Linked DNA regions of Homo sapiens. The protein of the gene in region 1 purifies or fractionates together with the protein of each later gene. This does not show direct contact. Each region holds a gene or a part of one and is shown in the gene's direction. Other genes may lie near its edges.

Evidence for each region.
Region 2: the proteins of DOCK3 (region 1) and DHCR7 purify together in Homo sapiens (affinity purification with mass spectrometry; one large-scale study listed by BioGRID and IntAct). This does not show direct contact.
Region 3: the proteins of DOCK3 (region 1) and HS3ST4 purify together in Homo sapiens (affinity purification with mass spectrometry; one large-scale study listed by BioGRID and IntAct). This does not show direct contact.
Region 4: the proteins of DOCK3 (region 1) and NEDD9 purify together in Homo sapiens (co-immunoprecipitation; one study listed by IntAct). This does not show direct contact.
Region 5: the proteins of DOCK3 (region 1) and AIDA purify together in Homo sapiens (affinity purification with mass spectrometry; one large-scale study listed by BioGRID and IntAct). This does not show direct contact.
Region 6: the proteins of DOCK3 (region 1) and UBAP2L purify together in Homo sapiens (affinity purification with mass spectrometry; one large-scale study listed by BioGRID and IntAct). This does not show direct contact.
Region 7: the proteins of DOCK3 (region 1) and HS6ST3 purify together in Homo sapiens (affinity purification with mass spectrometry; one large-scale study listed by BioGRID and IntAct). This does not show direct contact.

What each region holds. Positions count from the first base shown.
Region 1 is NC_000003.12:51,377,397-51,381,691, forward strand, and holds part of DOCK3 (dedicator of cytokinesis protein 3), read left to right. Parts: exon of another isoform or gene 1-2,046; intron 2,047-2,052; coding exon of another isoform or gene 2,053-2,175; intron 2,176-2,728; coding exon 2,729-2,811; intron 2,812-3,653; coding exon 3,654-4,163; 3' UTR 4,164-4,295. UniProt on the Homo sapiens protein: Potential guanine nucleotide exchange factor (GEF). GEF proteins activate some small GTPases by exchanging bound GDP for free GTP.
Region 2 is NC_000011.10:71,437,529-71,441,937, reverse strand, and holds part of DHCR7 (7-dehydrocholesterol reductase), read left to right. Parts: intron 1-497; coding exon 498-711; intron 712-1,101; coding exon of another isoform or gene 1,102-1,152; intron 1,153-2,854; coding exon 2,855-3,059; intron 3,060-3,994; coding exon 3,995-4,126; coding exon of another isoform or gene 4,127-4,134; intron 4,135-4,409. UniProt on the Homo sapiens protein: Oxidoreductase that catalyzes the last step of the cholesterol synthesis pathway, which transforms cholesta-5,7-dien-3beta-ol (7-dehydrocholesterol,7-DHC) into cholesterol by reducing the C7-C8 double bond of its sterol core.
Region 3 is NC_000016.10:26,131,759-26,136,167, forward strand, and holds part of HS3ST4 (heparan sulfate glucosamine 3-O-sulfotransferase 4), read left to right. Parts: intron 1-3,853; coding exon 3,854-4,409.
Region 4 is NC_000006.12:11,185,234-11,188,577, reverse strand, and holds part of NEDD9 (enhancer of filamentation 1), read left to right. Parts: intron 1-270; coding exon 271-360; intron 361-2,906; coding exon 2,907-3,344. UniProt on the Homo sapiens protein: Scaffolding protein which plays a central coordinating role for tyrosine-kinase-based signaling related to cell adhesion. As a focal adhesion protein, plays a role in embryonic fibroblast migration.
Region 5 is NC_000001.11:222,677,506-222,681,914, reverse strand, and holds part of AIDA (axin interactor, dorsalization-associated protein), read left to right. Parts: intron 1-4,409. UniProt on the Homo sapiens protein: Acts as a ventralizing factor during embryogenesis. Inhibits axin-mediated JNK activation by binding axin and disrupting axin homodimerization. This in turn antagonizes a Wnt/beta-catenin-independent dorsalization pathway activated by AXIN/JNK-signaling.
Region 6 is NC_000001.11:154,251,478-154,255,886, forward strand, and holds part of UBAP2L (ubiquitin-associated protein 2-like), read left to right. Parts: intron 1-3; coding exon 4-176; intron 177-2,422; coding exon 2,423-2,612; intron 2,613-3,358; coding exon 3,359-3,413; intron 3,414-3,674; coding exon 3,675-3,849; intron 3,850-4,205; coding exon 4,206-4,278; intron 4,279-4,409. UniProt on the Homo sapiens protein: Recruits the ubiquitination machinery to RNA polymerase II for polyubiquitination, removal and degradation, when the transcription-coupled nucleotide excision repair (TC-NER) machinery fails to resolve DNA damage.
Region 7 is NC_000013.11:96,088,707-96,093,622, forward strand, and holds the start of HS6ST3 (heparan-sulfate 6-O-sulfotransferase 3), read left to right. Parts: upstream 1-1,400; 5' UTR 1,401-2,156; coding exon 2,157-2,863; intron 2,864-4,916. UniProt on the Homo sapiens protein: 6-O-sulfation enzyme which catalyzes the transfer of sulfate from 3'-phosphoadenosine 5'-phosphosulfate (PAPS) to position 6 of the N-sulfoglucosamine residue (GlcNS) of heparan sulfate.

The sequences.
Region 1 (4,295 bases):
GGGTTCTGAGTCCCATGAGGACTACATCTCTCACTTACAGGTATCTCTTTTTGCCGTGCAGTGACTCCCAGATCAGGTGAGCCTGCCTTCAGGACCATGGGCTATGCACTGGCGGCCTCAGGCCAGTGCTGGACAGTTGTTAATGGTGAGGGAGGGAGGCGACAGGATACAGTTGGGATCACCCTTCTTTTCCTAGGATAAGTCATTCTGTATTAGCCTTCCCTCTAGCCCCAGTGCATTTATGCTACATGGCAAAGGTCTACTGGCCCCACTGCTCACAGACATCAGGCTGCAGGGCAAACTTGATGGCTTCTGGTTTATATGGAGTCACTCAGGCAGGCACCCTTTTGTAAACCATTAAAGCCCTGTAAGCCTTCTTCTCCCATAGCCTTCCTGCCCTAGAGCTCCTTTGAGCCCTTGTGGGTGAACATCTGCACCCCATAATTCTTCCAGGGCTAGGTGTGCATCTGAGATCCTGGGCTGTCAGAACCCCTTTAGGGAAGCCGCCCAGACCCATTTCTAAGCTTCCTATTCCCTGATATTTCTTTGGTGGCTTTTTATGGAGAAGGTGATTTTTTTGGCAGAGAGGGGAAGGTACAGGGAGCCTCAACACCAAGAAGCTCATGCTGCATCTTGTAGGGAGCATGGGTGAGTGGGCCTGTTCTTGGGATGGCTCAGGCTCTCTAAGGAGGCTATTTGGTGAAATCCACCTGATGCTCATCAGATGCAGAATTCTTTCCTCCTTTCAGGCAACAGCTAAGTGTCTTGCCTGCAACTCAATCACTGGCACACCCCTCCTTCCTGCCGCCAGCTATCAACCATACCAGGAGACGGGGCAATTCTCAGAACTGAGGCTGTTTAGACAGTGGAGTTTTACCCTGCGTTCTGCTGCAAGCTCACGCCAGTTCCTGCGCAATGAGGAAGAAGAGGATGATGGATGTCACAGTCTTATCCCTGGACAGCTGAGGGGGCCCAGCCCCTCTGGCCACATCCTTTTCAAAGGACAGACTCTAGCTCCTTCCCTTCCAAAGCCTGTCAGCTCCCATTAGGCCCTGAAATTCCCATCTCTGTGTCTAGGCCAGGAAGAAACCAAACCTCAGCCACCTCAGGCTCAATGTAGCTACCACGGCCTTAGAACAAATCCAGTGACAGCACCTGGATTGTGAGCCGCTTCTCTGCTGCTAATAGCCCAAAGGGGAGAGTTGCCTGGCTCCAACAGAGAAAGGACATATTTCTTTTTGCTGGTATTTGTTCTCTAGGAGGAGCTGGCCAAAAGAATTCACATGTCCACTGCTGCTTCTGCAGAGTGGCACCCTCAGACCCCAAGGTCCAGCCATCATTCCTCTCTCCTCCTGAAAAGTCTGTCATCCCAACTGTGGCTGAGGGGACAGTATTCTGGCAGTGGACTCCTTCTTTAACACAGAAGGGCACTCTGTGCTTCCCTTTTTCCTGGGCCCACTGCACCCCTGCATCCATGGCATGTGGGTGCTAGGAACTGGGGTTCTGTAGACGCCAAAGGGTACTCATCGGCTCCACAGCCCTCCCTCCTCCTGTTAGGAAGCAGTGGGTCCAGCTGGATCTGGGCTGCAGTTTCTTCCAACAGGTACCTGTCCTTGCTCCCTGCTTTTCCCACTGAGCCTGGGCAGTAGGAGAGCTGACTCTAGACTTTGGCAAGGAGCTCTATGTCCTGTGCTCTCTCTATATTCTCTCATTCTCATCTCTACTCTTCTGTCCTGTTTTCTCTTCTCCTCCTGGCAGATCCCAGAGGCTGCAGGCGTTCACTCCTTGCTGCACATTCAGCTATCTCATCCTGAATACTCTTTAGACATAAACTCACTCTGTTGCCCTCCTCTTAAGCAGCTTCAATCCCTGGCCACTCTCCCCTGTGGACCACAGTGCCTTGCTTGGCCAGCGTTTTTAGTTCCAGGTGCTGGCATGCCCCACATGTGTGCTGGATACGTGGTGCACACTGGAGAAGCCACAAGCTGTACTTCTCCCAGAGGGTGGCTCAAGAAGTAACCTCCCTTCATGCCATCTGTTTCCACCCTTCAGCTGTGCCAGCAGCCCCCAGCAGCTGGAGTCTGGATAGCGGAGCCCAAGAGGCCCAGCCCTTCCTGTCTGCCCATATGGGGCGCATCCTGGCCCCCCCAGTGCCTCCCCGAAGCCTGCTGCATGGTAAGAAGACCTCCAGCGGGTCCCCCGATAGTCCCTGGTCTCAGACTCTGCTCAAGGGCCACAGCAACAGCCATCTAAGCTGAGAAGATGGGCCATTCTCTGGGCCGACTCAGCCAAAGCCAAAACACCCCCACCACAGGAAGGATCCTGCTGGGCTTTGGGGTCAGTGAGGTTTCCGAGTACAGCAGGTTAGCTCAGGAAGGCCATCCCAACCAGAAGGCTGAAGACAATGGAATTGACTGTGCCAGGCACACTTCTCACCAGACTGTCTCATCGCCTAGCAGTGGGCTAGAGCTGCCGCTGCCTGAGGCCTGTTCCACAGACTCTGAAGCACTCAACTTCTCTGACTTCCTGTGTGGAGTGAGTTTCTTTTACCCCAGCAGCCTGTGTTTTGGAGAAGGCCAGTGTAAAGAGAGGTTTATCCATAGCCCTCAATGCTGAGGGGTCCCCAGGGGACTCTTCTCATGCCTGCCCAGTTGGCCCAGCAAGATGGTGCTGGCATGAAGTCTGTGCAGGGCCCCCAGCTGAGGCTCTGGTTCTGTTCCCTTTGCAGGTCATTACTCCCTACACTTTGACGCCTTCCACCACCCTCTGGGTGATACCCCCCCAGCCCTCCCTGCCCGGACCCTGCGCAAGGTAATGTACTGAAGCGGCAGCCCCACCAGGCTGTGAGATGAGTCATCTCGTCTGCTCTAGAACCACCCTTGGGGTCTACAGGAGGAACTGGAGCCCTCCCCTTCACCTCTCTCCCCAGCCTGGCAGAAGCTGGGGGTGGCCAGAGCCACACTTGAGCTGCAGGTGCACATTTGTGTCCTGCAGCAAATGTGATGGGGGCAGGGAGATCAGAGGGTCCTGGAGACAACAACACACAGTACCAAGAGTGTGTGGGCAGTGAGCACTGGGAAACCTGGGGGCTCTCAGCCAGCACCAAGGTATCAACACACTGTAGTTCGCTAGCTAAACAAATGTTCCTGTGGTGGATCAGAGAGCATTTCAAACTAGAATTCAGTAAAAGCAAGAACTTTATGAAAAACTCAGGAGAGTAAAATTTCCTACCTGTTAGCTTGTCTGCAAATTGGAAAAGACTGAGTCTATCACAGATTTTAGCAGCAGAATACATTCCTCTGGTCCACGGCCCACCAGGGTTCTTTCTGCCCCTCCTCAACAGGCCTGATGACCCAGCCTTTATGTCAGTATCCCAGAGCCACCGACGGCAGCCTGGGACCTGGGACCAGGGGGCACCAATGCCCAGCAGCCAGGGCAGGGCAATTTTTTGGCCACAGAAATGCAGATGATTCTGGAGTTCCACTGGCTTAGGGGTGGTGGGAGGAGCTGGGAGCTTGCTGCTGAAGAAACAAGAAACATGCTGTTGATGAGGGTTAAAGTTCATTCATAAGCAGGCTCTTGGTCTTCCTATGGCGGGCAAGTCAGCCTGTCTGGAGAGAGGGATTCTAACATGCCCACCCTTTCCTTCGCAGTCTCCTCTCCACCCTATCCCAGCCTCCCCCACAAGCCCCCAGTCAGGTCTGGACGGCAGCAACTCTACGCTGTCCGGCAGTGCCAGCAGCGGCGTGTCCTCCTTGAGTGAGAGTAACTTTGGGCACTCCTCGGAGGCCCCACCTCGCACTGACACCATGGACTCCATGCCAAGTCAGGCCTGGAATGCTGACGAAGATCTTGAGCCACCCTACCTCCCTGTCCACTACAGCCTCTCTGAGTCTGCCGTCCTGGACTCCATCAAGGCCCAGCCATGCCGAAGCCACTCAGCCCCAGGGTGCGTCATCCCTCAGGACCCCATGGACCCGCCTGCGCTGCCGCCCAAGCCCTACCACCCCCGCCTGCCGGCCCTGGAGCACGATGAGGGGGTGCTGCTGCGTGAAGAGACTGAGAGGCCTCGAGGCCTGCACCGCAAGGCTCCATTGCCTCCTGGGAGCGCTAAGGAGGAGCAGGCCCGCATGGCCTGGGAGCACGGCCGAGGGGAGCAGTGAGGGGCAACGAGGCGGCTGGGATGCCGCCCTCAGTAAGCAGCTTGCCAATCACTCCAGGTCTGAAAAGCAAGTCCCCCAGCCCCACCCCAGGGAGCCAGAGAGGCTTGCACTCAGGAGAGAACCACCCCCAAG
Region 2 (4,409 bases), on another chromosome or scaffold:
AGACCTTGTCTGTTCATTCCTTGCCATCATTGAGAACCCACGAGGAGCCTGGCTTTGTGCCTCTCACGTGGGTGCAGACTGGAACCGCATCCCAACTCTGCCCCCAGAAGCTCCCTGTTTTGAGGGGTGGATGGGCTGAGGTGCTCCCCAACAATTACAGAGGGGGCCAGGCATACCACAGGGGCATCCTCACTTGCTTCTGCCCCTCAGCCCTGACCTCCCTATCAGACTGCACACCTGTCACTCAGCCTATGGCCAGTTAACGAGATGCAGAACCAAAGGATGGACTCAGCCTCCCCTCCCTCTTCCTAGGAGCAGGTAGTTCCTTGGCCAAGGGTATAGGGGCCTCAGAGATGGTTCCTGGGGCCCCAGATGAGGGTCCGCAGCAGCAGAGGCCCAGAAAGTGACCAGGGCCCCCGCCAGGCATGCTTCAGCCCAGCCAAGCTCCTCACTGCGGGTTGGGAAAGCGCCTTCATTTCTGAATCCTTCATCTGCAGGGGTTGTGAACAAGTATCAGATCAATGGCCTGCAAGCCTGGCTCCTCACGCACCTGCTCTGGTTTGCAAACGCTCATCTCCTGTCCTGGTTCTCGCCCACCATCATCTTCGACAACTGGATCCCACTGCTGTGGTGCGCCAACATCCTTGGCTATGCCGTCTCCACCTTCGCCATGGTCAAGGGCTACTTCTTCCCCACCAGCGCCAGAGACTGGTATGTTCTTAGCAGCGGGTCCAGCCTGATGTAGAAAGTGCAAACTTCACCCCTGGCCTTTCTTGCTGCCTGGGGCAGGTGGTTGTAAAGCCCTGAGCACTGAGAATCCGTGGAAGAGGAGGAGGGGGATGGAACTTGCTTCACCCTGGGGAACATCCTTTCTGAATGTTTGGTGGCTTCTCCAGCCTTGGCAAGAATGCAGCTGAAGATGGCCAGGTCAGCTGTGGTGGCCAAGTCATTGCCTTTAGGGCTGGCGTGGGGGTAAGGAAGCCAGGAAAAACTTCTGGCTTGGGGCACAGGCAGCCCATTGCCTCTTTCTTTGGATAAGCTGGTGAGGCCCAAAACAACCTTAGTGAAGAGTCTTATTGTCCCTGTGGCTTTAATTAACAGCTTCCCAGGAGAGCCCTGCTGGCTTGTACCCATTCCCATGGCTGGACAGTGGTGAGCCACTCATCTCTGTCCACTCATCCATTCACCTGCCCATCTCCCCACCCACCCATCCACCCCCCTACCCATTCATCTACCTACTCACCCATCATCCACCTACCCATTGCCCCATCCCATTCACCCACCCACCAATGCATCATCCATCCACCTATCCATCACCCACATCCACCCACCCATCATCCATCCATCTACCCTCCCATCACCCATTCATCCATCTGCCCATCCACCTACCCACCCACCTACACATCTAGCCACACACCCATCCACCTGCCCATCTCCCCATCCTTCCACCTACCCACCCACCCATCCATCATCCATCTCATCCACCTGCCCATCCACCCTCCACCCCGTCTGTCTACCCACCCGTCATCTATTTGTCCATCCACCTATCCACCTACCCACCCACCTACACATCTAGCCACCCACCCATCCACCTGCCCGTCATCCATCCATTTACCCATCCATCCACTCTATCAGGGCCTGTAATGGCATGTGCCGAGGGGAAGGAATGCATCATCTCATCCAGGTCAACCTCCTGCCTGAGCAATGTCCGCAGCTCCTGACCGGCCTCCCTTACCCTCTCAGGCCCTCCTAGCCTGCTCCCTCTGGCTTCCTGGGTGACACTTCTGAACACACCTGATCCCTGCCACCCTGCACCCCAGCTCAACCCTGCCTATCATATATCCATCCACCTGCTCCTCTCCCCATCCCATTCATCCATCCTTCCACCCACTCACCCTGTTATCTATCCATCCATCCATCATAAACCAATGTTTGGGGGGTTCTCTTGTGGACAGTTGTAGGCAGTGGGACTTACAGTTCAGTTTGGGGGATCCAAAAAACCCCAGTGTGGTTTACACCTAGGCTCTTGGGAAATGTTTCTGGAGGATGACACTTTGTAGCTTGTGTGTTATCAGATAACGAGGCTGGCCTTCAATGGCTCCTGGAAATCATCCTCGCTACCTTATAATCATGTAGACTTTGTGTGTTTTGCTTCTTTCTACTTACCCTACCTGAGGGAACTGGACATGAAAATAGGATTTTCTAGTTAACACAGAAATTGTTGTGTGTCCTCAGCCAGCTAGACCTAGTCAGGGTCTCCACAGGGGTTATCTCGGCTGATGCTCTGGCCCTCCGGGGATTGGGGGATTCAGGTAACTGGTCAAAGAACTTGTCCTGCACATGCTGGAAGCCGGGCCCAGGGTGCGTTTGTCATTCTCTACGTTGGCGTGATTTATAATGTCACTCACCCATGAGGGCCCACGTGCCCTGCGTCGGCTTCAAACCGTGTGCTTGGGCCCCAGAACGTAATCTCAGTGCAATCAAGCCAGTTCTTCAGCTCACCTGTGCCATGCGTCAAGGGCATCTGGAGAAGGGTAGAGAGAAACCCAGGTACCAGCCCAGGGCCGGTCTCCCACCCTTCCCGGGTGCAGAGCAGGTGCCCCTGGGCTTCTGCCTAAGGAAGTCTCTGCTGAGCAGCAGCTGAATGCAAAGCAAAGTGAATGAGGGCGCCAGGAACCAGCCGACAAGCATTCCAGCCGTGGGGGTCCCAGCGGCTCATGGCCAGCTTCTGCCTGCGCCGTCTCACGTTACCCTTTAGGACCCTGGGCCAGTGCTGGGCTCTCGCTAAGTAAGGTGGCTTCATCTTGTGAGATATGCTCATCCACTAAATGTATCTTTTATTTATATTTTTAAGCAAATTCACAGGCAATTTCTTTTACAACTACATGATGGGCATCGAGTTTAACCCTCGGATCGGGAAGTGGTTTGACTTCAAGCTGTTCTTCAATGGGCGCCCCGGGATCGTCGCCTGGACCCTCATCAACCTGTCCTTCGCAGCGAAGCAGCGGGAGCTCCACAGCCATGTGACCAATGCCATGGTCCTGGTCAACGTCCTGCAGGTGCCTGTCATGGCTGGAGAGGGTGAAACGCCGATGCCGGCAGGCTCTGGGGGAACCCGCAAGCCAGAGCGTATTCCCATGACCTTAATCTACTGCTTGTAAAAGAGAGTCAGCTGCCCTCCCCAGGTGTCACCAGGAAGCAGCCGGCGAGCACTTGGTGAAGGAAGCCATCCTTGGGTGCCTGTCTCTGCCAGCCCTGGGAGGGGAGGAGGCAGGTTCTACGCAGCCAGGCGTGGTCCAGGAAGGTCTCCCTTGGGGATTACACCTGGGTAGAATCTGGGGGTGTGTGGGAGTTAACCTGGTAGAGTGGAGGCAAGAGTGCATGCTCCAGGAACCCCCTGTAGGGAGAGAGGGTGGCAAGTCTGGGACACTCAGAAACATCCCGCATCCTGACCAGAGAGCGTTCAGGAGCTCAGAGCCAGGTGAGGCTGGAGGCCTCATGGAAGTCTTCCTCTTTATCTTAAAAGCAGCAAGACCCAGAAAGTGTGTGCTGAGCTGGGGTGCAGGGTGGCAGCGATCAGGTGCATTCGGAAGCGTCACCCAGGGAGCCAGCGGGAGCTGGCTAGGAGAACCCGAGAGGGTGAGGGAGGCCTGTCAGGAGCTGTGGACGTTGCTCGGGCAGGAGGTTGACCTGGATGGGATGAATGTATCCCTTCCCCTTGGCACGCGCCATTGCAAGCCCTGAGAACCTGGGCTGGGAGAGATGCCAGGGCCATGGGCTCGGGGTGGTTCTGAGGACAAGGAAGCCCTTAGCCCTGCCCATGACCCAGGCAGGAACAGCCCCAGCCGCAGGGAAGGAACAGCCCCAGCATTGAGGAAGTTGCTGAGCAGCTCCCGAGCACCCCCTGCTGCATCTGCGTGGAGTGTGATTTCCCCGAGGTCCATGGGGGCCCCAGGAGGGCCGGGGGTGGTCAGCGGCTGCTTCTGTCTTGCAGGCCATCTACGTGATTGACTTCTTCTGGAACGAAACCTGGTACCTGAAGACCATTGACATCTGCCATGACCACTTCGGGTGGTACCTGGGCTGGGGCGACTGTGTCTGGCTGCCTTATCTTTACACGCTGCAGGTGAGGAGGTGGGCAGAGCTGGCCCAGCGGGGCATTTGGCAGACACATGCTAAGCTTTCTCCTTGCAGAAGCGTCTGTCCTTGGGGGCACCAAAGCTGCCCCCTGTTTCTAGGAAGAAGGGAAGGCCTCGTGTATTAGCCAGCTCAGCCAGCTTGGGCCAGCAGCCAGGGAGGTGGCCTTGAGTATGTCCCTAACATCTGCAAAGTAGGGCAGATGCCGGCTCAGGGCTGGATGGGGCAGTGGAGGTGGAGGTGGGTCAGTGCGGGCACTGGCAGGAGGGGTC
Region 3 (4,409 bases), on another chromosome or scaffold:
AAGGAAGATTAAGGCATCAAAACCTTTCACAACAAAAACCTAGCATTAGGACTGGCCTACACTTAGGAGTGGAGATTAATGGCTTGTCATTCACCCATCTATTCACTCAACAGATAGGCACTGAGAACCTGTTATTTGCCAGGACCTGTCACCGATCCTGGTGTTGAATTACTCTTGCTCAGCCACTCAACTTAGAAACAAAATACATACTTAGTGAGACCTTGGAACAAATCTTTAGCTTCTGGTCCTGTTTCCTTCTCTGTAAAACTGGAGTAATAATGATGCCTGCTCTGTTGATTTAAATACTTCATTATATGATGCTATAAAGAGCTCTTTATGTATCAGCTGTGGGAGCTAGACTGGTAGCTTAGTGGAGGAAGGGACTGCATCCGTTTTGTTTACTGTTACATTACCCATAGTGATCATTTATGGAATGAATGAAAGAATGAATGAATGACTATAACTGATTCAGAATCAGTTTGAGGAAAGGGAGCTTTGTCCTTTATAGATTTCAAGCAACTACTGGATATCTTCTCACTGACAAAATAACTGGATAACTCATGCCACATTGGTTGAATCATGGCTCAATGAGATAGTCTCCCCATGTGTGCCCCAAATGCAAAAACTCTCCTAAAGTATATACTTTTCACATTCATGGGTAGCATGAAGGTCAAAGCTATTTAGTCTCCTCTGCTCCCCTCTACTGTCTCCAAAGCCTTCTGCAATGCCTTCTCTTATTTCCTTTTGCAACAAGCAGTAAGTTAGGCACACATCTACTCTGCTAAATCTACCAGCTTATATGTTGGGTACCATTTTGTCCCAGATACTTCAGATAAAAGACTCAAGATCCACAAAGATCTTGACAGATCGTCAATCAGCTGAAGTAAAGGAGATGAATTTGAATGGGGCTCAGTGCAAAGAGAAGCATTGAGGTCTAAGAAGGCAAAGGTGAAGAATGGATGAAAAGAAAAGTTGAGCAGCTGCTCCTACACTAAAGAAAAATGCAACAAAATAATGTGTTTAGTTTTGTGTGTCAAAAGTACATCAGGGGAACTAAAATCTGGAAAAGGCCGTATAAAAATAGCTATTTTCAGGTGATGTGTTTTTGCATCAAGATTTATCTAATATTTTTATAATATGATATGAGTTGCATAATGAAACAAGGGAATATATCTCTCCACTTGAAATAAAAATAAGATGGTCAGTATATTTCCTATACTCAGGCTGAGCTAATGGTAGCTCCCTTGTTGGACACCAGCCTCCAGATCCGGAAGTGCAATTGATGATATTGGCATGAATTAGAGTATACTTTTTTCTAGATCAGTTCCTTAGATACCATGTTTTCCTGCCTTTTCCATTTGGTCAAATGAAGTATTTTTTTTTTCCTTGCCCTTCTGTAAGAATTACTGTAAGAATAATCCTGATTTTGGCCAGCTGGCTTAAGTTAAAAAAATTCTGACATTGAACCGGCATGATCCCAAGTGATTTACCTGCATTATGACATTTAATCTTCATTAAAATCCTATGAGGCATGGCCTTTTATTAACCCTATTTTCTTTGATGAAACATTAAGGGTCAAAATGGGTTAAGTAACTTCATCAAGGTAGCATGGGTAATCAGAACTCTTAATTCAGGCAAATCTGATTCCCAGGGGCTGCATTCCTTAGCCCTGTTCCTCCAAATTAGACAAATTGATCTGTTGAGAACCAAACAGACACACACAAAGGCATTCAAACTACTTTGGAGAATATGTCACTCCAAGATGAGCATGGTTGTTTATGGCCAGGGCTATTGCTTTGATCTGAAAACACCACGCTGCCCAACCATTATACTAACAACATCCAGCTCTTTGTGAATTTCTCTACGAGGCAAATTCCTCTTGCCTCATAAAAGTGCTTGCCGAGATAGCTCAAAACCCAGTTGCAATTAATTATTGACAGAGCATGTGAATTAGAGATAAAAGAAAAGTCATTCTTTCTCCACACACGCGATAGTAAATAAATTTAATTATGGTAGGAGAAGCTAGGGGATCTTTGTCTGTATTAAGTTTTATTAGCTAAGACATTTAAAAGCATGTCATCATAACAAAGAGGTCTTGTGTAATCCTAAATGCACCACTTTGGTGCAAGGCTCAGAAGTGAATAGATTTAATGGAGCACATGGTGGCAGATGGCCTGCTGTACTGACAGGTATTGAACAGGTTTATCTTCAATTAACTTTGGTCTACATATGCCTGTAGCAAATTGACTGTATAATGGCATTCTAAGCTTAATTTTATCATTGATAAGCCTGCCACATTGAGATTAGGGGAAAATGGCATCAAACCCCTTTAATATTAATATCTTGGAGCTCCCAAATAAGATAAGGCTACTCTGGAGGCAAACTCGGATGGAGGAATGGGAGTGGAGGAGCAGCCTTAGCAAAGGAACCAAGAGATACTGACCCTGGTATGGGATCTGTCAGTGGCTTTCTGGGCAATTTTGGGAGCAAAGAAAGAATAAAATCCCATATATTGAGCCATACCTATGCTAGATCTTTCATCTTATATGTCATTTTCCTCTCAACTGAATTTTCTTTTCTTTTCTTTTCTTTTCTTTTCTTTTCTTTTTTTTTTTTTTGATTGAGATGGAGTCTCACTCTGTCACCCAGACTGGAGTGCAGTGGCACAATCTCAGCTCACTGCAACCTCTGCCTCCTGGGTCCAAGTGATTTTCCTGCCTCAGCCTCCCAAGTAGCTGGGACTGCAGGCGCGTGCCACCATGCCCGGCTAATTTTTGTATTTTAGTAGTGATGGGGTTTCACCATATTGGCCAGGCTGGTCTTGAACTCCTGACCTTGTGATCTGCCTTCCTCAGCCTCCCAAAGTGCTGGGATTTGAGGTAGGTTTTAGGATTTTACAAATGAGGATAATAAGGCTCGAAGATATAATTCAATTTGCTGAGGTCACAAAGCCTGTCTGATTTCCATGTTTATTCCCTGTCCCTGGGCTTCGGTTTTCTCATTTGCACAATAATACCTTTGGACCAAGTCAGGGATCAGCAGACTCTTTCTTAAAGGAATAAGGAGTAAATACATTAGGCTTTGGGCCATATGGCCTCTGTCTTACCTCCTCAGCTCTGCTGTTTTACTGTAAAAGCAGCCTAGATGAATATGTAAATGAATGAATGTGGCTGTGTTCCAATGGAAGTTTATTTATAAACATTGAAATTTGAATTCTATATAATTTTCATGCATCACAAAATATTATTATTATCTTTTTGGTTTTTTTTTCAACAACAATTCAGTGATTACAAATCATTCTTATCTGTGAGTTAGACGAAAATAGGAGGCAGGAGGTAGTTTGCCAATCCTGGACTAGATAAGCTTTGAGGTCTTGTTGAGCTCAAAGATTTTCTAAAAACTACTATAACAATAATAATTTCTTTAATTTATTGAACTCTTACACATGCCAGCTTCATTGCTCAATGCTTTTTGAGCATTATCTCCCTTAATCCTTATACTACAGTGTGAAGTCAGTGCTATCATTATCTCTGTTTCAGGGATTATACAACTAATACGTAGAGAAATCAAGGGTGTATCTAGGTTAAACATAACTGGTAAGAGGTAGAATAGCCATTTAAACCTAGGGATATATAAGGGAGAGAATGTATATGCCTTGTGTTGCCTTTTCTGATAATACGTAGCCAGGGTAAGACTATAGTCAGGAGATATAGGTAAGAAGAACTTGCAAGAGTTTATCAATTTTATTTGGTGGTTCCAAACTAGGTTGTTTATATCACACATTTTGTGCAAAGAAGTTCAGATATTTCTGGACAGGAATAACCATTCTCTTCCTTTTTCCTCCCTCTCCTAGAAATGTGATGCCCAAGACTTTGGATGGGCAAATAACCATGGAGAAGACTCCAAGTTACTTTGTGACAAATGAGGCTCCCAAGCGCATTCACTCCATGGCCAAGGACATCAAACTGATTGTGGTGGTGAGAAACCCCGTGACCAGGGCCATCTCTGACTACACGCAGACACTGTCAAAGAAACCCGAGATCCCCACCTTTGAGGTGCTGGCCTTCAAAAACCGGACCCTCGGGCTGATCGATGCTTCCTGGAGTGCCATTCGAATAGGGATCTATGCGCTGCATCTGGAAAACTGGCTCCAGTATTTCCCCCTCTCCCAGATCCTCTTTGTCAGTGGTGAGCGACTCATTGTGGACCCCGCCGGGGAAATGGCCAAAGTACAGGATTTTCTAGGCCTCAAACGTGTTGTGACTGAGAAGCATTTCTATTTCAACAAAACCAAGGGGTTCCCTTGCCTAAAGAAGCCAGAAGACAGCAGTGCCCCGAGGTGCTTAGGCAAGAGCAAAGGTCGGACTCATCCTCGCATTGACCCAGATGTCATCCACAGACTGAGGAAA
Region 4 (3,344 bases), on another chromosome or scaffold:
TAAAAAGAACATTATATATGAGATTTGAAGGGAATCATGAGTAGCTCTCCGAAAATTTTAAGGTGCCCCAGAAAGCTGGCACCCTATATGGCAATGGGCTTTATTTTTCTGCCACCCCTGTCGTCTAGGGTTCACAGTGCCTCACTGGGCATTTGAGATGTTGCCAAGGCAGTGGAAAATAAAGAGTATTTACTCATCCGTCAATGAAATTGTTAGCATAAGTGAATCACAGTGATGACATAATATGTTCTTTATGTTGAAAATTAACAGGGTAAGGAGGAGTTTGAGAGGCAACAGAAAGAGCTATTGGAAAAAGAGAATATCATGAAACAGAACAAGATGCAGCTGGAACATCATCAGGTAAGTTCAATCAGAGCAAAAACTGCTTGGCATTGGAAAGATTTCCCACCTAGCACTAAGGAAAGGTATCACTTCAAGAGATTATGATTTTGATTCTTCCAGCTCACTGGCAGGAATCAGCTCCAAAGCACGGAATGGGGTTTAAAAGCAAAGAGAAGGTTTATGACCTTGTTAGTTCAACTGGGTGTACCTGGGTTCCATCTAAACGGCAATTTTTTTAAAGGCTAAACCTGCATATCTAACATATGAGGACTATTTGGGTTAAGGCATTTGGTCTCAAGAAACAAGACCCATTCAAGCTAGCCTAAGCAAGCAGGTTTATAGTAAAGCCACAGTAGGGGAATTCAGTAACAGAAAGTGAAGATAGAGCCAGGTCTGGGGAGAACTAGAACTGTAAATTATCTCTCCTTCTTGTAGTTCCTTTGCTTCTTTCTATCAGTCTACTTCACTCTCACCTATTTTCTGGTTTTCTCTAATTATCTACTCATTTGGCTCCCCTGTAACTTTGCAGAACCCATAAATGGCCACTCAGAACTTCTATAGATGGCTTTTCATCTCGGCTTCCTCTTCCGATGGTTAGCTCCCTTCTCTTGTTCATCAGATTCCCAAGAAAGAGTCTGATTGGGCCACGTTGATTGGGCCATTTCTCTTTCTCTCTCTCTCTCTCTCTTTCTGTCTCTACCTCGCTATTTGTCTCTCTTTCGCCAGCAACACAAGCCTATGGTTTGCCTGGCCTTGGTCCAATCTAAAGGTAGGAGAGCAGAATTCAATGTTTTCAACATATATCCAGGCCTATCTACTGAGGACTTTGGGCAGGGCATGTTCATTCAAAAGCTGGGTATGAGTAGGGGAGATAATGACGACTATTGCTAGAACAAGGGCATACAAATAAAGAGAGATGGATTGAGGATTTATTTACAAGCCTTTTAAGATGAAATGAAGTGAAATGGCATGTAATGACATGAAATGGCATGCTATATTTAGGAAATCTGAGTTCTAATCCTTTCTGGCCAACCAACTATGTCAAGTCAGGTAACCTCCCCGAGCTTCAGTTACTTCCCTATAAAATGGGAAAGTACCCCCCCCATCTAATGACATGATATATTGATGAACATATTTGCATAAAGCCTAAGATATATAAAATATAATCCATTATGATTAAATACCTTGGAATATCACCTTGTACCTATTTATGTTTGCCTTGGCATCTGGCAAGGTAAGACTGCAGGGCTTTGGGGAACTTGTAGAAACCATAGCAATCGCTAAGAAGAAAACAGATTCTAGAAAAGTAAAGCTGTTGAAGGCTGGGCACGGTGGCTCACACCTGTAATCCCAGCACTTTGGGAGGCCGAGACGGGCGGATCATGAGGTCAGGAGATCGAGACCATCCTGGCTAACACAATGAAACCCCGTCTCACTAAAAATACAAAAAATTAGCCAGGCATGGTGGCGGGCGCCTGTAGTCCCAGCTACTTGGGAGGCTGAGGCAGGAGAATGGTGTGAACCTGGGAGGCGGAGCTTGCAGTGAGCCAAGATCGTGCCACTGCACTCCAGCCTGGGTGACAGAGCAAGACTCTGTCTCAAAAAAAAAGAAAAGTAAAGTAAAGCTGGCTGTGCATCTCTCAGAGAAGCTGGGGAAGCTGGGTGAGGTGATCACTGCTCCAGCTCATCCCTACGTCCAGGTGGGAGATTAACTGAGTCTGAAGCTCAGGTCACAGATAGTCCTTATCTGCAGAAGAGAGGTCTCTCTTGAGTCTTAGTGGAATCCCTAGAAATTATTATAATTGCAATTTAAATAATACACCATTTGGTAGCAATGAGGAAAGAAGGAAGAAAGCCAGCACCTGATGCATCTGACTCTGGGTAAAACCCCCTTCTTTTAACAGCTCTGGGGGACTAAATATTATGATGCACAATTCCCATTCAGACTGCCTTAGAAACTTTTTTTCCTTAAGTGCTCATATATTTATATGCATTAATCTTCCTGTAGTGCTGGATCATAACATGTCTATCAATCTTGACAGAAAGAGTAGGATAAACAGAAAGGGGTCATGAATGGTCATTTCATCTGAGCATCCTGAGATAGTCGAGGCTTTCTCCGAGAAGGAGCAAACTGTCAGTGACTTACTTGACAAGGAGGTCACTACATTTGGTTTTCCCTTGCCACCCCTCAACATTAATAAACATTTACATAGAGCCTACTACATACCAAACTATTATAAGCATTTTGTAAACGTTAACTCATTTAACCTCCATAAAGGTGTAGGTAACAGGGCTGCGGTTTAAACACTATGCTACCTTCTAGCCAGAGGGTACAAGAGACCAGTAGTCCAATCATAGAAGGTCTGAGCTTGAGGATCATCTTTCCCAACGTCTACATTTTACAATTTAGGAAAGCAAGGCAGCTTGACCCAGGCTTTACAGCTCACATGCATCTGACAGTTACTAGCGACTAAAATCCCTGTCTTTTAACTCCAAGGCCTAGTGAATTTCCATTGCAACACACTCCCTTGCTCTAATGAGATCTGCTTTCGTCTTCCTTGCAGCTGAGCCAGTTCCAGCTGTTGGAACAAGAGATTACAAAGCCCGTGGAGAATGACATCTCGAAGTGGAAGCCCTCTCAGAGCCTACCCACCACAAACAGTGGCGTGAGTGCTCAGGATCGGCAGTTGCTGTGCTTCTACTATGACCAATGTGAGACCCATTTCATTTCCCTTCTCAACGCCATTGACGCACTCTTCAGTTGTGTCAGCTCAGCCCAGCCCCCGCGAATCTTCGTGGCACACAGCAAGTTTGTCATCCTCAGTGCACACAAACTGGTGTTCATTGGAGACACGCTGACACGGCAGGTGACTGCCCAGGACATTCGCAACAAAGTCATGAACTCCAGCAACCAGCTCTGCGAGCAGCTCAAGACCATAGTCATGGCAACCAAGATGGCCGCCCTCCATTACCCCAGCACCACGGCCCTGCAGGAAATGGTG
Region 5 (4,409 bases), on another chromosome or scaffold:
TAAGTGAGGGGCCTCAGATGTTCCTCCGCTTTTCTCTGTACCAGCTGTAGGAGGGAGAGTGGTACTGATTGCTGGACACCTTGGTGGTCATCTGGGGATTCACATGGCCAGCATGGACAGAGGACTTGCTTGCACAGTCCACATCCCCTCCCCATGGTGGCAGTGGCTATAACACACTCTTCTGAGAGCCTGCCCTGTTGCTAGGTTAGACACTTGTACAGTTTTCAAAACGTTCTTTTATTTTTCTTTTTTTTGAGACAGTCTCGCTCTGTCGCCCAGGCTGGAGTGCAGTGGTACAATTTCAGCTCACTGCAACCTCTGCCTCCCTGGTTCAAGCAATTCTCCTGCGTCAGCCTCCCAAGTAGCTTCGATTACAGTCATGCACTACCACACCGGCTCATTTTTGTATTTTTAGTGCAGGCAGAGTTTCACCATGTTGGCCAGGCTGATCTCAAACTCCTGACCTCAGGTAATCCACCCACCTTGGCCTCCCAAAGTGCTGGGATTACAGGTGTAAGCCACCATGCCCGGCCAATTTTCAAAACATTCTTGAGTGAACTGGTCTTTGTTGAATAAACTTAGCCATTTCTCTGATACCTAGAACCAGTTTTCATTTTATTTGTGAGAATTTTGATAGCAGCACTTCAGTGAAGAAAGCCATGAGTTGACAGTGTCAGCGTTTTCTGTTTGACACCACAGTGTACAGCCCAGGGCAGTTCCTCAGAGGTACACGTGAGGACAGGGCGTGAAATCCAGCTTGGCCTTTGCTTGTTTGGGGACTTCACAGCAGAAACAGTTTTCTTGAGTACACCATTCTTTATAGACCTTACAAATGCTATAGCATGTCATTTATTGGTAAAATTTTTAGACTCAATAGAGAAGCTTTTTTTTTATAGTTTATCACAAAACCTCTTCAGGATATGAAAAGTCATCTCTTGTGTCCACTTATTGCGCGGTTTGGGAATAGAGCCTTTTAAATTTCTTATACTATATCTTGTGCTAAAAACGTCTTGTAATTTCACATGCAGGCATTATGAGATCCTTGCCCACTGTGTGACTTTTCTTCCTCTGGGCATTAAGCTCTGCTACTAAGTAATTTCCTTTTTGAGCCTTTTTTAAGTGAACATTACTTTAGAAAAAAAAAAAGCTTTACTCTATTTTAAATGGCCATTAGGATATCAAAATAATCGGTGTCTTTACTTATCAATGGTTGTGACTTGTAGTTGCGATTTCTCGATTTTGTTGGATCCATTGCTGCATTGATAAAGTGTTTTTCACAGATGAGGCAACTTGGAAATTATCCATCCAGGTACAACCATATTAATAAGTAGGTCTCATCATTAAATGGACTTTTTTGTTTTTCCCAGTGCACTAGTGCAGTGAAATGATTCAGAAGCTTGAAATTCATTGTTTTTACTTAGGGAGAATTGTCTCTATGCTTAGGCTTAGAACCTTCCTCTCCTAGCTCATACCTCTTCTTTAGAAATCACATTGAATTGAAAAATTTCCTCCAGTTTTCTTTGCTACAAGTAGAGCATGTTTGCTTCAGCTGTTGGTGCATAAGGGAAGGTTGGGGCAGGTAAAGCTGAAGAGGCTGACGTCAGACTGCTGTATAGAGCTCATCAGCTACCAGTGGCTTCCCCTGTCTCCTGAAAAAAAAAATACTAAATGGACCAAGTCAAGTGAACATAATCTTAACTGCTTACTGCCATATGAGGCTCAAAGACCTATAATAAAATTGCTATAGGGGCTGCATAGTCTCTTTCCATCACTGTGAACCTGCATTGCTCAGTGTACAAAGCCCATTGCAGGGGCTGCAGATGGTGTAGTATTATCCTCGTATTTTATTGTCTTTAGTGCATATTTAAAGGCAGTGCATTGATAGAAATCACTCTTTTGCGTGGAGCTCCTAGCGAGTTCAGGGACACCCTGGGATTCCACAGAACCCAGGTTGAGAAATCTTGATTTAGACAGTTGTAGCCATACAGAGCTTTTCATATTTAGAAGTGTGAGGCAGAAATAATGCATCCCTTCCCAAAGATGTCCACATCCCAATCCTCAGAATCTGTGCATATGTTTCTTACATTACACGGCAACAGAGACTTTGCAGATGTGATTATGTGAAGGACCTTGAGATGGGGAGGTCATTTCACAGCTCCTGTGTAGGCTCTATGGACAATGAAGAAATGGCCAAATGAGGTGTGGTGGTTACAAGCATGGAATCCCGTGCCAAACTGCTATATGATTGTGGGCAGATTACTTAACTTTTCTGTCTTAGTTTTCACTTCTGAAAAAATGGGACACCTTGTTATAGGGTGCTATAGCACCTGTGTTATAGGGTTGTTGGGAGGATTAAATGAGTTAGTACATGTAAAGGATTAGAACAGTGCCTGGCACACCCTGACATGTTCTGTAAAAGTTGGCTGTTTATTATTTATGCAGCTTTTCCATATGGAAGAACATTTATTATTTCTGATCCTCACTTTAGATCTAACAGCAAATGATCTAGCTGGAAACACGCAGTTTTTCATGGCTCATGTATGATTTCTTTTCTTACTTCAGTTACAGTCTTCAAGTTTTATAAATGTAGTTACTTATTCTCATATTACTCTATACAGTTGAATGTGTTCATTCTTCTTTTAGAAATCTTGCTTTTAATACATTGCCTTGATTTTTAATTATTGTATGTTTTTATCTTTGATACACAAATATGTTAACTTTTTCATCTAACCCTGGAATGGTGTGGTATTATCCTAGTATTTTATCTTCTTTCGTGCATATTATATAAGGCAGTACATTGATATATGTTTTCAGGCCACATGTTTATAGAGCATAATAACCTCTAGAACTGTAAAATTCATTTATCATTCAACAAATGATAAAAGAGTTCTAAAACAAAGATCTCTTTATTACTAGTGAAAACAATACAAAAATGAACAGTTACTCATCCCGTCTTTCAGGATGCTCACCATGTAAGACAGAGCCAAAAAAAGTACATCATCATGGTTAGAGGTGGACACAGTATATTATGAGTGAACGAAAAAAGGACTGACAGAGTTTAGCAAAGGTAATCTAGCCAGAACTGAGACTCAAAGGGAGTGTAGGAGTTGACTAGGCAGGGAGAGAGCACATTAGAAACCACTGAGAAATACACCTTTCTCTATTACCTGTCGTCTTAATCACATAGCTTCAGCTGTTCCTTAGTAAAGATAAAACTACTGAACCTTCATGGTGGAGATGAAATGTTTTATGTTCTACCTTGAATTAGGGAAGAACTGAATAAATTAAGTATCTTTCCAGCTTGGAATCACTGCCTCCATATTACATTGTTAGAAATATATTTAGTAGTTAGATTAAACCTTATTATATTCTCAGGCAAAAAAAAAGTTTGTTGGTAAGGAAGAAAGAAATGTCAGCCTCATTATTTCAACTAAAAGATCTAGACAATTACAGGTTATGAAACTGATTCACCTAAAGGTAGAAGAATTTTTAATGTTTACTTGGGAGAAAATAGTCTATCATAAAAAGAACTTGTCTCTTTTGTCTGTCAGAAAACACCATAATCAAAATCAAAATGACAAACGACTAATATTCTTAATATATAAAGAAAATTTTAAGTTGTGACAACAAAGACCCCAAACACATTAGAAAATTGGGCAAAAGACATGAACAGATAGTACACACACACACACACACACACACACACACACACACCCCAAGATATACAAATAGCTCTTAAATGTATTAGAAGATACTCAACTTTACATATGATAAAAGACATGCAGATGCCTTATATGGCAGTTCCCTGTTGCTGAGACAACAGGGAAATGGGCTCATTTATCACTGGTGGGAATAGAAAGTGGTAATAGTCCCTTTAAAGGAGAGTTCAGCAATAGCTCAGCAACAACAAAAATATACAATTTTTCTTAGTTTAGCAATCCTGTTCCTAGGAATTTACTCTGAAGATACACCTCCAATAATGTGTAAAAAATTTTTTTTTAAATACTTACATATACACCAGGTTCTCTATTGAGGTGTTTTTGGTAATAGTAATATATTAGAAACAACCTAACTGCCATACGAAGATTGGCTGAATAAATAGCCAATACATGGACTATTACAGAAAATAATTAGGAAAATCTCCATGAACTATTGAGTGATTTTTTTTTTCAGAATATATTGTTAAATCAGCAAGATACATATATCAAGGTAATTCACATTAGCAGATTAAGGAGAAGAATCCCATGATCTCAAGAGATGCAGAAAAATTTTTCAATTACATTCTAATTTCTTTCATGATTTTAAAACTTTCTTAGCAGACCAAGAACAGAACATTCTTAATCTGATAAAAGGTAGCTGTAATGACATTTAGCGCCTCAGTCATATTTAATGATAAAATGGAAAGCTTT
Region 6 (4,409 bases), on another chromosome or scaffold:
TAGATTCCTGCTCTGGCTGTGGAGATGCCTGGCTCAGCAGATATCTCAGGGCTAAACCTGCAGTTTGGGGCATTGCAGTTTGGGTCAGAGCCTGTCCTTTCTGATTATGAGTCCACCCCCACCACGAGCGCCTCTTCAAGCCAGGCTCCAAGTAGCCTGTATACCAGCACGGCCAGGTAGAGGAAACATTAACCATAAGACCTCTCTTATTAACCTTTACTACTTTTTTAATCTGTGGGAGATTTCTAGAACTCTGGAGAGGCCAAGCCCCTCTGCATGGCTGAGGGGGAAAGTAGTCAGTCATAGCATTTTTAGTGCTTTAAAATATTGTTATTAGGGTTATCTGTAACTAAACAGGTAGAAATATGCCCCTTAGGGGCTGGGTGTGATGGCTGACACTTATAATCCCAGCACTTTGGGTGGCCAAGGCAGGAGGATTGCTTGAGGCCAGGAGTTCAAGACCAGCCTGGGCAACATAATGAGTCCCTGTCTCTACAAAAAAAATTTTTTTTTAAACACAGAGTTTCACTCTGTTGCTTAGGCTGGAATGCAGTGGTGCGATCTCGGCTTACTGCAACCTCTGCCACCCGGGTTCAAGCGATTCTCCTGCCTCAGCCTCCCGAGTAGCTGGGATTACAGGTGCCCACCACCATAACCAGCAAATTTTTGTATTTTTTAGTAGAGATGGTGTTTTACCATGTTGGCCAGGCTGGTCTAGAACTCATGACCTCAAGCGATCTACCCACCTCGGCCTCCCAAAGTGCTGGGATTACAGGGGTGAGCAACCGTGCCCAGCCCAGATTTTTTTTTTTTTTTTTTTTTTAGATGGAGTTTTGCTCTGTTGCCAGGCTGGAGTGCAGTGGTGTGATCTCGGCTCACTGTAACCTCTGCCTCCCAGGTTCTAGCAATTCTCCTGCCTCAGCTTCCTGAGTAGCTGAGATTACTGGAATGTGCCACCACATCCGGCTAATTTTTGTATTTTTAGTAGAGACAGGGTTTCACCATGTTGGCCAGGCTGGTCTTGAACTCCTGACCTCGGGTGATCTGCCCTCCTCGGCCTCCCAAAGGACTGGGATTACAGTCATGAGGCACCACGCCTGGCTCAGAGTTTTGCTCTTGTTGCCCAGGCTGAAGTGCAATGGTGCAATCTCCGCTCACTGCAACCTCTGCCTCCCAGGTTTAAGCAATTCTCCTGCCTCAGCCTCCCTAGTAGCTGGAATTACAGGCATGCACCACCATGCCCAGCTAATTTTGTATTTTTAGTAGACATGGGGTTTCACCATGTTGTTCAGGCCAGTCTTGAACTCCTGAATGGAGATGATCTGCCCACCTTGGCCTCCAAAAGTGCTGGGATTACAGGCGTGAGCCACCACACCCGGCCCAAATCTTATATGGTTCTTGAGGGAGCCTAGAATTCAGAATTCTCTAAAATGAGTGTGAACAAAAGATGGCTTTTCCTGTGCTTAGGGTCCATGTTATAATGTATAGAAGGGGCCAAGAGTAATGTATCCTGTATACCGACATTTAGCCACTTTTTTATTTTGAGACAGAGTCTTGCTCTTGTCACACAGGCTGGAGTGCAATGGCACGATCTCAGCTCACTGCAACCTCTGCCTCCCAGGTTCAAGTGATTCTCCTGCCTCAGCCTCCTGAGTAGCTGGGATTACAGGCGCCCACCACCATGCCTGGCTATTTTTTGTATTTTTAGTAGAGACAAGGTTTCGCCATGTTGGCCAGGCTGGTCTCGATCTCCTGACCTTGTAATCTGCCCACCTTGGCTTCCCAAAGTGCTGGGATTACAGGCATGAGCCACGGCTTCCGGGTCCACTTTTTCTTATAACAGCAAAATGTAGGGGGGAGCCAAGGGACTTTTCTCTTCCTTGAAGACTTGAAGATGTTTTTAAGATTTTTTTTTTTTTTTTTTTGAGATGGAGTCTCGCTCTGTCACCCAGGCTGGAGTGCAGTGGCTTGATCTCGGCTCACTGCAAGCTGCGCCTCCCGGGTTCATGCCAGTCTCCTGCCTACTCCCAAGTAGCTGGGACTACAGGTGCCCGCCACCATGCCCGGCTAATTTTTTTGTATTTTTAGTAGAGACCATGTTAGCCAGGATGGTCTTGATCTCCTGACCTCGTGATCCGCCCGCCTCGACCTTCCAAAGTGCTGGGATTACAGGCGTGAGCCACTGCGCCCGGCCTAGATGTTTTTTTAAGATTAATTCTTAATTCAGATCTCTGGCGCTATAGAAGGTAGGGATTCCTAGTGTTATCAGGAGGAAATTTTGGTAGATTCTTCTATTTGTTGCTGAAAAATTTCTTCTTGATTCAAATCAAGTTATTCCACTAGTAGATCTCCACGATTTCCTTAGTATGAGTAGATATGCTCTATTTTGTTTCTCTGAGATTTTTCTCTTCGTTACTCACAGTGAATCATCCTCTACAATTTCATCTAACCAGAGTCAGGAGTCTGGTTATCAGAGCGGCCCAATTCAGTCGACAACCTATACCTCCCAAAATAATGCTCAGGGCCCTCTTTATGAACAGAGATCCACACAGACTCGGCGGTACCCCAGCTCCATCTCTTCATCACCCCAAAAGGACCTGACTCAGGCAAAGGTAGTGGCTTCATGAACCCTTGGGAATTGGTTAGGAGAATAGTGGGCAAAAATTCCTTAAATATTAGTGTTTTACTTTTCAGCAAGTGGTGCTAAGAAACTTTGGAAGTAGTGATTGAGAATTTGAAAAAGGCACACATCTGTGGCTAGTGAATTAAAAGTTCTTATCAGCAAACCCGGAGACTGAAGAGCCAGGAAACCATTCTCTTTGTACTAAAAATTCATTGCCTCTAGTAGAATCAGTCTCAAGTGCCTGTCCTGTCTTCTGGGAAGATGTGATTGCCAGATTTCTGGGTGCGTGTCAGTAGACCTCACCTTGCTAAGTCCTGGCATGGTGAGGGAGACAGCATGTGCCAGAGGTGATGTGGAGTGAGTGTCAGATGCAGCCAGCGGAATAGGTGGTGTGGCTGAACTGTTGTACTTACCCTTCCCCAAAAATCACTGGATGTGGACTTTGGGCCTTTCCTCTATCTGTTTTAGGTTTGGGGTGTCTTCAACAATTTGTAGGGTTTCCTTCTTTTGCTTTTGGTCACACAGTGTTGGTATATCTCAGTTTTGTTGTTTAATTTTTGTTCCTATTTTGGTTTTTTGGATAGTCTACATTGTATTAATATTAATCCTTTTGGTTAATTTACAGAGTTTCTCCTAAAGATTTGTTGACCAAAATAAAGCTGCATCAGTGCTAACTTTCCTCATTCACATGAGTTTGTCTGTTTCTTGCTCTTCTGTTTTTTTTTTTTTTACCAGAATGGCTTCAGTTCTGTGCAGGCCACGCAGTTACAGACCACACAATCTGTTGAAGGTGAGTGTTCTTCAGGCTTTTCCCCTCCTAAGTTTCTGGTTTTCTATCTTAAAATGGTGATAATCCATTAGTTCCCTTCACTGGACAATTGAGACCCATGCTGTGTAATTCTCAGCATTAAAGAAAAAAGATTCTACCTAATATAGTCCATTGTTAAATAACTCATCCTTTTGTCTTTGGAACTGCCTTGGACTGTGGTCACCTCTCTATAGACATTCCCTTTTTTCTGATGAGAGGAATTCCTTTCTTCTAAATTTCTAGGTGCTACAGGCTCTGCAGTGAAATCTGATTCACCTTCCACTTCTAGCATCCCCCCTCTCAATGAAACGGTATCTGCAGCTTCCTTACTGACGACAACCAATCAGCATTCATCCTCCTTGGGTGGCTTGAGCCACAGTGAGGAGATTCCAAATACTACCACCACACAACACAGCAGGTGATTTGGGGTGAGGATGGAGGTTGGGGTTGGTGAATAGCAATAACAGAGCTCTCTGGTCCTTATTACTCCCTTGACCTGGCAGAGACCACATTAGCCCTGCTTTTGTCGTAAGTGGGTGACCTAAGAACTGTGGGAAGTGAAGACAGAGGAGGCTTGTTTTAATTTTCCCCTTTCAACATCCACTTTTGCTTTAACTGCTCTCTACCCCTGGCTGGCCATTGTGCTTAACATATGATCTCAGACCTCCTTGGTGTCCCATATTATGTCTTATTTCCTTGTTATGTTCTTGACTGAAGCTCCAGGTCACGTAACTATAGCACTATGGCTGATGGCAGCCTCTTTTTTTCTGACAGCACGTTATCTACGCAGCAGAATACCCTTTCATCATCAACATCTTCTGGGCGCACTTCGACATCCACTCTTTTGGTAAGTGTGATGCTGAGAGGGATGTGTGGTTTTCTTACACTTAGAACTGTCCAACTGTAAGATTGTCCCAAGAGAGAATTATTGAAAATTTCTTCATGAGGTGGCAAAATAATTGATTTGAGGTTGCAGGA
Region 7 (4,916 bases), on another chromosome or scaffold:
CAAACTTAAGTGAGAGAAAAAGAAATAGAATCAAATAAGCTTTAAAGAAGCTGATTCATCTCACCCAACACCTTTTCTACTGATATAGCCTCCTACATATTAGGAAAGGCAAGGGTTGGAGTTGTTTAAAGAGTTGAAAACGGGAAAGGAAATAGAGGAGGGAAGTTTTATTGAGAAGAATTCCACCTGTCTAAACAAGGAAAATAGTATCCTATGGGCAAACTTTAGCATCCCTGAAAGAGCCCTGGATCTTCACTGATGGCTGCAGAGGGGACACCCTGATAAATAGATGACATCGACAGAGTGTCTCAGGAAGAAACAAGTGCATGGATTCATAAAAAGGCCAGATGGGACGGTGGGCTGCTATGAAATATTATAGCACACCTGTGGAATACGGTAGTGTAGCTGGGAGGGACACATTGGTCTGGGCCAGGGAATCACACTGCATTGTCCTCACACATTGCCTTTAACACATTGCCACTCTCCACTCGGAAAATAGGTCGAGCAGGTCTAGGGACTGTGGTAGGGCAGTTACAACAATTTGATCGTATATCTTTTCACTATCTGAAAAACAGAAGTTGTTATTGAGCAAAGATTTAGTTCTGGGGTAATACTAAATGCAACATCTAGATGTTTGAAAAATAAAGTTTCCAAAAAACATCTGCATACAAATTAGGGCTTATGAAATATAGGCAAGCTTAAGTGTTATCTTCCACCATTGTTGGGAAGGAATAAATCTTGAACATTTAGGAGTTCAACGTCTATTAGTAGAATGATTTTTTTAGGAGGTGATCCCTAAACTCCTTTTTATGTTCTAAGTACTGCATGGTTGAGGGCTGGACTGTCTAGTGCTGAAAGAAAGTGTGTATTGAACATAGAGCCTGATACACAGTTAGGCGCTTAATGGTTAATTGATGCTGGTTGAATACAGTTGTATAGTTGGACGCACCAAGTTTGTTATTAAGGGAGGACCACCATAAAACTCGAACACCAGTTAGAATGTCTTGGGTAGAAATTCACAGCAGTCTGGAGCCACGTTCCCCTGCTGAGAAGGGAACTGCCAACCCGTGTAAAGTCTGGTCTAGTGAGTGTTCCCGGGAGTGTGCAGGTGTTATTCCTGAAAATAAGGCCGGCCACTACCAGACAGAGAAGCTGCCCATTTTAAGGTGTCAGATCAACGCCAGCGACGCTTACCTCGGGGCCTCCTCTCGCCCCACCTTTGCCTTTCTGCCAAATCTCTCCTTGCTCCCGGCCGAAGGGATTCCCACCCCCAGCTGCCTCCTCCGAGCCCCGCGGAGCAGCGGACTCCTCCCCTGGAAACTCCTCCGGGGCTGGGGGAGGCTTTGGCGCATGCTCCGTACCTAGGGCAGGTTTTTGCTGCGGGTAGCAGGGCTCCTGTCACACCGGCTGGCGGGTTGTGGCGGTGCCAGCCTGTGTGTGCGAGTGTGTCTGCGTGCCTGCGCCTGGGCGGACAGCCCGGAGCGGCAGTGCGACTCGCCGGGAGAGGCGTCTCCGCAGAGGCGCCTCGCCCGCTGCCGCTGCGCTGCGGGGGCCGCTCTGCAAACTTGCGGCGAGCGCCGTCAGCCCTCGCGGCTCCACAGCCCCGCGACCTGCCGGCAAAGGCGCCGGGCGCGCGTGCCGGGCGCGGTGCCCGCGGCCGGCCGGGGCGGCGGGAGCGGGCCGCGCCTTCGCCCTTGGCCGGCGCCCTGGCGAGCCTCATGCAGCCCCGGCGCTCGCGGCCGCAGCTACCCGGCTGCCCGGCTGCGCGCGGCAGGTCCAGGACCCGAACCCCGCTCCCCAGCGCCTGAGCGCCTGCAAGCCGCCGGCGGGATGCCGCGCGTCGCCTGAGAGAGCCGCGCCGGGGCGGGAGCAGGGAGCGGGCCGGCCCGGGCGCACCCGGGAGCGCAGGGCGCCCCACGCCGCAGCCGCAGCCGAGCGCGCCGGCGCCCGCCTCCCCCGCCCGGCTCGCAGGCCCCGGCTCCTCAAGCCCCGAGGGCCGCGGGGCCGCCAGCCAGCCACACGCCTCGGCGTCAGGGGCATGGAGGAACGGCGGGCTCCGAGCCGCGCCCCGGAGTCCGCGAAACTTCCGAGCGGGCGCCCGTCCGCCCTGCCGCCGCCGCCGCCGCCGCTTCGCCTGCCGGCCTGAGAGCGGGACCATGGATGAAAGGTTCAACAAGTGGCTGCTGACGCCGGTGCTCACTCTCCTCTTCGTGGTCATCATGTACCAGTACGTGTCCCCCTCCTGCACCAGCTCCTGCACCAACTTCGGGGAGCAGCCCCGCGCGGGGGAGGCCGGCCCGCCCGCCGTCCCGGGTCCCGCCCGCCGGGCTCAGGCGCCGCCGGAGGAGTGGGAGCGGCGGCCCCAGTTGCCCCCGCCGCCCCGGGGGCCCCCCGAGGGACCTCGGGGGGCCGCGGCGCCGGAGGAGGAGGACGAGGAGCCCGGAGACCCCCGGGAGGGGGAGGAAGAGGAGGAGGAAGACGAGCCGGACCCCGAGGCCCCGGAAAACGGCTCCCTGCCCCGATTCGTGCCGCGCTTCAACTTCAGCCTGAAGGACCTGACCCGCTTCGTGGATTTCAACATCAAAGGGCGCGACGTGATCGTGTTCCTCCACATCCAGAAGACGGGGGGCACCACTTTCGGCCGGCACCTGGTGAAGAACATCCGGCTGGAGCAGCCTTGTAGCTGCAAAGCGGGTCAGAAGAAGTGCACCTGCCACCGGCCTGGCAAGAAGGAGACGTGGCTCTTCTCCCGCTTCTCCACCGGCTGGAGCTGCGGGCTGCACGCCGACTGGACGGAGCTCACCAACTGCGTGCCGGCCATCATGGAGAAGAAGGACTGTCCCCGCAACCACAGCCACACCAGGTACTGTCGCCCGCTGGGTCTCTGTTCTTCCCCCCCACCCCCCATCCCTCTTCCTCAGTCCTGACCCAGAGCGACCCCGCGCTCCCTGCCCCTGCCGATGGTTTCCTGGCGTCTTCAGCGGTTGGCGCCGTGGCTTTGGGGAGGGATGAGAAACCTCCGGATAGTGCCTAGGTCCTGAACTCGTTCTTCCCCCAGCCCCCACCGCTTCCCGCCACCCCTCTGCCTTCACCCTCTAAGATGTGCGGAGCCACCGTGTGGATCCTGCCTGTTGCCTAGCACGGCCTGGCCTCCCTCCCAGTGGACGCTGGAAAAACGCCCTGAAATGGGGAGCGGATCGCGGTCTGGGTTAGACCAGCCTTGTAGAATTGTGAACTTAAGTTTTGGGAGTGTAAACCCAAACCCAGGAAAAGGAAGGGGGAGTAGAGAGGCAAGGCACGAGTTTTCCAGGCGTGGTGAAGCTGGAGACGAGTATAATCCCTCCCTAAGTGGCTTTTGGATGGCAGCTCAGGAAACAGTCAATCCTCTTGATGCCACTTTGAAGACACACGTGCAAATTCCTGTTCTACCGCGATAGATAACTCTAATTCTGGAGATGGTCTTTGTTGCCCAGCAGTGCCAGGATTTGGACTCACCTGTCCTCAGAAAGATTTCCATGCTCTTCCTAGGCCATTACATCAACTTATTCCAAAAGTATGTTAAATGCCTACAGGGTGCCTGACAGTGTGCTAGGTGTTAAGTGAGTATAAAGATAACATAACATCCCTTGTTTTCAGGATGGAATGACATTCTTGATCCCCTGCCTCCCAGCCTTAAAAAACAGTAATACAGTGGAGAATTAAGAAAGTTAAAAATCTTAATAGCCAATGAAACTGCTTACATTATTAACATGCTTTGAGAGAGACATGGGCTTAATAATTTGGTTGAAGGTCCTTTCTGCCCATTGCAATTTGAAGATTAATCTGACATGCTTGCTAAAGGACGAAAATATTAAAAGCTTGGAACACTAGTTCATTGAAGTTTTTATCTTAAAGGTTTCAAACAATTTGGTATGAGGAAATAGGAATTTAAAAGCTCAAGCTGATTATGTTGATATCCCAGATAGCTTTTGCATTTGACGTTATAGAAAAGCTTCATTTACTGGAAGCTACCCAGATTCTGGAATTCACCACCACTGAAGCATCTAATTCTACTTCATTTCTCCAAGAATGAGCAAAATTTCATTATGAGATTTTTTACTCTGGCAATTCTTCAGATACTTTCCTTCCTCCCTGCTCCTTTTCCTGTTTCCTGCACATTAGTTAGAATAAGAAACTGGATTTGGAATGAGGGAATTAGGCTCTTCTCTTAGTATATTTTACGGATCCTTTGCTTTTAAATATTTTTAATAGTGTATTACTTTGGATCTTGCCACTCTCTTTTAGCTTAAAACAGTTTTTCAATTAAGTATTACTTCCAAACCTCCTAACACATAACACTATTACTTCAGTGAGACACAATTTCTGCTACATTTCATCCAACCTTGTACTCCCTGTTTAGATTAATTCCTGATTGACCTCAAAGGGTTTGCTAGACTGCTTCCCAGCTTCCATTTCACTAAAACTGGAGTCTTATTGATTATCACATAGAAATGTCTGATTACTCTTCAGTAGGGGCTGGCATTATTTTTGTCCCAGGTTCATAAAAGTCTTAGTAAATAGATGAAGATTTTAAAGGACTTAGAGGAGGATGTGGAATCTAAAAATAATTAGATTTTTGCTTAGTGATGAATAATGTTACTACAGACCCTGAATAGGTGACAAGCAGTAAGGTCTCACTTCTATAGGAAATACTTAATATCTCTATTCTGTTGACACAGGAAAACTCCACTGTGACTGTTTAAACATATGATTTCTAGTGTATGATCAAGTTATTTTCTTTGTTTAGTAATGGAGCATAAACATTCACTTCTCCCTGAATCACAGGTTAGCAGGCAATTAGTCACCCTGTTCTGGTTTCCTTTCTTTCTAAAAAAAAAAATTTTTTTTTGGTAGTATTTTGTTTTTACCTCATTTTA